Linked DNA regions of Homo sapiens: region 2 is linked to region 1. Evidence: fine-mapped expression QTL. A gene starts in region 1. The other region holds a variant in brackets. All regions are shown on one strand. Distances are from middle to middle.

Region 1 (2,902 bases):
TACTTGGCCTACAGTGGGGAGTGGAGCTGCTGGTCCCAACCACTCTGGCAGTATGAAGTTGCCCAGTAAAATCTTGATTTCAGTGAAATTGGTGGTTTCTTTGCCCACTAAGAATTGCCAATTCTTAGGCATTTGCCCCGCAAGCCCTATTCATCTCTCCCAAATTCTCCCCTAATTAGAAGTCTCATGGAGAGGGCCATGTACACAAGTTCTCACCAGCTGTGTGACCTTAGACCTTCATTCTCTTAAGAGCCCGTTTTCTTATCTGTGAAATGGACGTAAAGTTCCCTACACAGTGAGAGGACCCATAGTTAAAGGCATTCGATAAAAGGTATTCACCATTGTTATAGGCAGCACCTGCTTCTCAATGAAGCATGGATTCCACCCCTGGCAACCTCCCAATCCCACAGTGAGAGCATCTTCCTAGGCCCTCCTCATGTCACGGAGGCCATGGGTCTGGGAGGCGGATAAAGGAAGGGGGTCAGGTGTGGAGATGGTTGGATACTGTGTATGAATGATTGGGTAAATGAGTCATTCAAATCATGGGTGAGTGGATGGGTGAGGGGTAGAGTGGGTGGAGCAAACGGCAGACGGATAGGTTAGCATTTGCTGGATGTTTGACCTGGTAGGTGAGTAGCTGGGTAGTTGGTTAACCAGGTTGGGTATGTCTGCCTAGAAAAGGCCTGGTTCATAGTAAGAAAAAATTTTTTTCAATGTTGTGATTATATATATCATATGTACATATGTTGAGGTCTCCTGAGACGCCTGAGAACTGGGCAGTGGAGAAACAATAATGAACTAGACAGGACTCCTGGCCTCATGGAACTTACATGTTAGTGGAGGGACCAAATCAACAGACAAACTGGTGGATGGATGTTTGGGGGGCTGGGCGGAAAGATGTGTGTGGGGATGGTTGGGTACTTGCTTGGTTGTATGGATAAATGAGTATTTACTTGGGTGCTGGATGAATGGGTGGGTAGATGGGAAGTGAATGGGTGGGTTGAGTGGGTGTTTGGGTGAATTAATAGGTGGTTGGAGGGGTGGGTGGATAGGTGATTAGTTCATTGGATAGGTAGATGAGTGATTGATAGATTGAGGAAGTGGATGAGATAGCTAGGTGGTTAGATATCTGGATACATGGTGGATAAGACAAGACAACAGGCCATGATGTGTGTCTGATGGGGTAGTCCTGGAAGCTGTGATCCTGGGAACTGGGTGGAGAAGGTGACTTAGGACTGAAGACCTAGGGCAACTCTAGGGACATGGAGGTGCTGAAGTCCAGTGTGGATGATTGGGAAGGAGGGAGTGAGCTTGTGGTTGGAAGGTAGCTGATGGGGGGCAGGGGACAAAAGGCTAAAAATTGGCTGGGTGGAGTCTTCAATGACCTATCAATGACCCATCAATGACCCATGGGGGAACTTCTCTGCACCCTCCCCACTCTTTTAGTGCTTTTAGCGAGCCTACCATTGGAAGTACCAGTGGGACGATAAGGAGCCATTGGGGTGTGGGACGACAAGGGTGTTGTCATGGTAACGGGGCCTCTCCCTGGACTCAGGCCGTGCGGGCCCTTTAAGGGTGACCCGCTTGGCCACTCCCAACATGGCGGCGCGCCCGCTGGCCGCCCCCCCCGGGGCGGCGAGGGGGGGGGGGGTGGGGTGGGGGGGGCGCCCCGGACCTCCCCATCATGGCGGCGCGGCGGGGCTGTCGCGCTGAGGTCACGGCGGCGCGCCGGGGGGGCGGGGCGGCGGGGGGAGCGATTTAAAGGGACAATGTCCCCCGAGCGGTGGAGGCGGCGGCGGCTGCGGAGGCCGCGGCACCGGCACCGGGAGCGGCAGCGGCGGTAGCGGCAGCGACGGCCGCACCAAGGAGGGGAGCTCCGAGCCCCGGCACCTGGCCGGCGGCGCCGCCTCCCCGGTGAGGCCCGGCCCGGCCTGGGGAGCCCGCGGGTGGGGCGGAGCCGTAGCGGGGCGGGGGAGGCCCCGGGCCGGGCCGGGCCAGGCGGGACCCCCCGGGGCGGGGGCGGGGGCGGGGCCTTCAGGGGCGGGGCCTGGCCGGGGGCGGGGCCGTGCAGGTGGGGGGAGGGGCGGGGGTCTTGGGGCAGGTGTCCCCCCTACCTCGGCGCGTCCCGCGGGGTCTCCTGCCCCGGGGTGCACGGGCGGAGGGCTCATCCCCCGGACCCTGGACCCCCGAGGAGTGGGCCCGCGCGGCGCAGCCCCCACCTCTGCGACCCCTGGGGGGCGTCCGGGTAGGAGCCCCCTCCCCACGCTGCCAAAGTGCTCCGAAGTTGCGGTCCCGCCCGTTCCCCGCGGGCAGTGCCCACCCAGTGGACAACCGCAGGTGCTTCCTCCGGGCCTGGGTAGGGACCCCCACCAAGACTGCCAGCCCACGGAGGAGCCCCCTGGGAATCCCCAGGCCCCCGAGGGCAGCGCCTGCAACCAGGCCTGGCGCCCCGGCCCCGCCCCGGTTGCCTGGGCCCGGCCTCCCCACCATCTCCCTGGGGAGGGCGCCTCATTCCTGCCCTTCACTTTCCGCCGTTACCTTGAAGGTATTTATAGGTAGAGAGGACAACCCCCGCTCCCCAGGGTCCTCATTTCTGGACCAGGAGCCCTATCGTTTTCTTTCGCCCGAGGACTAGAGCAATCTTGGTTGGGGGGTGGGGGGAATGGAGGAGCCCAAGCTGGGTATGCATGAGGGATAATGTTGGGGAGAAGCGAAAGGGTTAATGCTGGGGTCACTTGAGGCTGTGTGTGTGGAGGGGGGTGAAGGGGTTAATGCTGGAGAACCCTAAGGTCCTGTGTGGGGGAAGGGTTGGAGTGTGGGAAAAGTGCAGGGATCATTGGTATGGGACAACCCAATGGAGAAAAGTAAAGGGGTAATGATGGGAGACTCCTGACGGTGTATA
Region 2 (2,902 bases), 29 kb before region 1:
CGGGCTGGTTTTGAGGTGGGAGCCCCACAGGGAAGCAATTTACATACACAACAGCCCAGTCATGTCAACCTGCCCCATCTGATGCCAGAATAAAGGGGAGATGGGTCCATTCTGCAGGTCTCAGTCATGGGCACCCGGAGAAGAGGAAGGACATTTCACTGTCAGCCCAGGTGAGTCCAGAAGCCAGCTCCTGGAACAATGCCAGGGTCCTGAACACTCAAGCTCAACCCCTGCTCTCAGCTACTGCTGGTGGCTTGAAATCAAGGGCTGGAACTGGATGAGAGGTGACAGCCCCTGGTCCCCATGGGCTCAGAGCAGGCCTCAGCAAACACTGTCCTCGGCCCCTGCACCCATGCTCTGCCTGAGCCTGAAGTGTTGGTTGCAAAAAAAAGCAGGAGGCAGTGCCAACTTCAGGCCTCAGCAAACACTGTCCTCAGCCCCCGCACCGATGCTGTGCCTGAGCCTGAAGTGTTGGTTGCAAAAAAAAGCAGAAGGCAGTGCCAACTTCAGGCCTCTGCTTCTCTCCTCTCCCTCAACACAGCCGGTCTTACCAGTACAGCAGGCGGCAGCTGAGAGTCCCCTCTGGTGGCCAGCAGCGGCTACAGAGCCGTCACTATGGGGAGGGACAGGACTTGAGGGGTTGCCTCGGTCCACCTCACTGGAGAATGGGCAGAGTTTATGGAGTCTGAACCACCTGGTCTCCAGGCCCCTCTGGGGATGGGCCTGGCTTACTGACCACTGACCTCAGCCTAGGAGGGACAGAAGAGACTGGGGGAGACCAGGATGCCCAGATGACCTTGACCCAGGGTACGCTGCCCCATGTCCCTGCTGCCTCCCGCCCACAGCTCTACGAGAGGCAGGTCTGTCATTCGCCGCTGGACTTTGACAGTGGTCAAAGGCTCTGCTCAGTTCTCTGTGCCTGTCTCCCTCCAGCACTGCCGAGGTTCTCTGCCGAGGCCAACCAGAAATACCCCTTGGAAGCTGGAATCCTGCAACAATGGCCCAGGGTGTCCTCTGGATCCTACTCGGATTGCTACTGTGGTCAGACCCAGGGACAGGTGAGTCAGGGGGCAGAGTCCTGGGACCAAACCTCTTGGCTCTGCAGAAGGCGTACTGCTGTCCCATCTATGTCTTGCCCTGCATGGAGTGAGGCTGGAGACTCAAGCTCTCAAAGAAGCTCCAGCATGGGGACATAGATATTCCCAGCTCCACAGAGTCAAGGCAAGGATAAGGGAAGGAATCTGGGGCCTGGAGAGCAAAAGTAGGGAAGGCTTCTTGGAGGAGGAGACATAAGAGCTAGGCTAGGAAGAAAGAGAAATGATTTGGGGGAGAAGCCAGAAAGGGCATTTTTTGCAGAGAAGAGCAAAGCTACACAGGTTAGGTGGTGGACTGGAGAAGAACCTAGATTCTAGACCAGGAGAGTGTGTCGAGTAAGACTTCCTGGATTCAAATTCTACTACTGGCCAGGCCTGTAATCCCAGCACTTTGGGAGATCAAGGCGGGCAGATCACTTGAGATCAGGAGATCGAGACCAGCCTGGCCAACATGGTGAAACCCCATCTCTACTAAAAATACCAAAAATTAGCCAGGC[G/T]TGGTGGCAGGCACCTGTAATCCCAGCTACCCAGGAGGCTGAGGCCAGAAAATTGCTTGAACTCAGGAGGTTGCAGTGAGCTGAGCACTACTGCACTCCAGCCTGGATGATAGAGCAAGACTCCGTCTCAAAAAAAAAAAAAAAAAACAAAGGCAAATCCTGCCTCTGCCACTTCCTTCCTGTGTGACCTTAGGCAGGTAACTTAACCTCTCTGTGCTTCAGATGCCTCATCTGTAAAGGGACACCATCTTAGTCCCTTTGTGCTTCTATATAGGCCAGGGTACCTGAAACTGAGTAAATTTGTAAAGAAGAGAAATTTACTTTCTTGCAGTTCTGCAGGCTAGGAAGTCCCAAATGCCAGTGCTTTGATCTTGGACTTCCCAGCCTCTAGAACTATGAGAAATAAATGTCTGTTCTTTTTTTTTGTTTTTTAGACAGAGTCTGACTCTGTCGCCCAGGCTGGAGTGCAGCAGCATGATCTCAGCTCACTGCAACCTCCACCTCCCGGGTTCAACAGATCCTCCTGCCTCAGCCCCCCAAGTAGCTGGGATTACAGGTGCCCGCCACCGCACCCGGCTAACTTTTGTATTTTTAGTAGAAACGGGGTTTCACCATGTTGGCCAGGCTGGTCTCAAACTCCTGACCTCAAGTGATCCGCCTGCCTCGGCCTCCCAAAGTGCTGGGATTACAGGCATGTGCCAGCACACCTGGCCAAATTTCTGTTTTTCATAAATTACCCAACCTCAGAGATCTGTTATAGCAGCACCAATGTACTAAGACAGGGGCTAAAAGGACCTACCTCACAAGAGTTGTGAAGACTAACTGCGTTAAATTATTAATATATAAGTCACCTAGACTAGTAGCTAGCACATAGTAAATGTTTACTGAAAGTTAGCTATTATTTGATAACCCATCTCTGAACCAGCTCTGAGCCTAACTTAGCATTTCTAGGTTTGCAGTTCAGCCACTGACATTTCCCCAACATGGCACAAGCCCATCCTGCTCTTCCCCCTGCCTCCCAGGCTATTTTATTTTATTTTATTTTATTTTAATTTAATTTTATTTTATTTATTTTATTTTATGATGGAGTCTCACTCTGTCACCCAGGCTGGAATGCAGTGGGGGGTTCTTGGCTCACTGCAACCTCCACCTCCTGGGTTCAAGCAGTTCTCCTGCCTCAGCCTCCTGAGTAGCTGGGGTTACAGGTGTGTGCCACCATGCCCAGCTAATTTTTGTATTTTTAGTAGTGACGGAGTCTCGCCATGTTGATCCGGCTGGTCCTGAGCTCCCGACCTCAGGTGATCCACCCGC

The links. PIP is the estimated chance that this variant, and not a neighbour inherited with it, causes the effect.
Region 2: its variant is fine-mapped to the expression of WIZ in whole blood (TOPMed, PIP 0.96).

What each region holds. Positions count from the first base shown.
Region 1 is chr19:15,448,810-15,451,711 of GRCh38, reverse strand. It overlaps WIZ (WIZ zinc finger), which reads left to right and starts at 1,756. Exons shown (of 13, transcript NM_001371589.1): 1 at 1,756-1,914. MIR1470 (microRNA 1470) reads right to left here and starts at 2,164; the gene lies at 2,104-2,164. RASAL3 (RAS protein activator like 3) reads left to right here. Exons shown (of 18, transcript NM_022904.3): 18 at 1-88. RefSeq lists silencers at 1,732-1,861, 1,912-2,031, 2,382-2,491.
Region 2 is chr19:15,477,467-15,480,368 of GRCh38, reverse strand. PGLYRP2 (peptidoglycan recognition protein 2) reads left to right here and starts at 868. Exons shown (of 5, transcript NM_052890.4): 1 at 868-1,058. The coding sequence starts at 998. The variant G/T (reference allele first, on the strand shown) is at 1,592.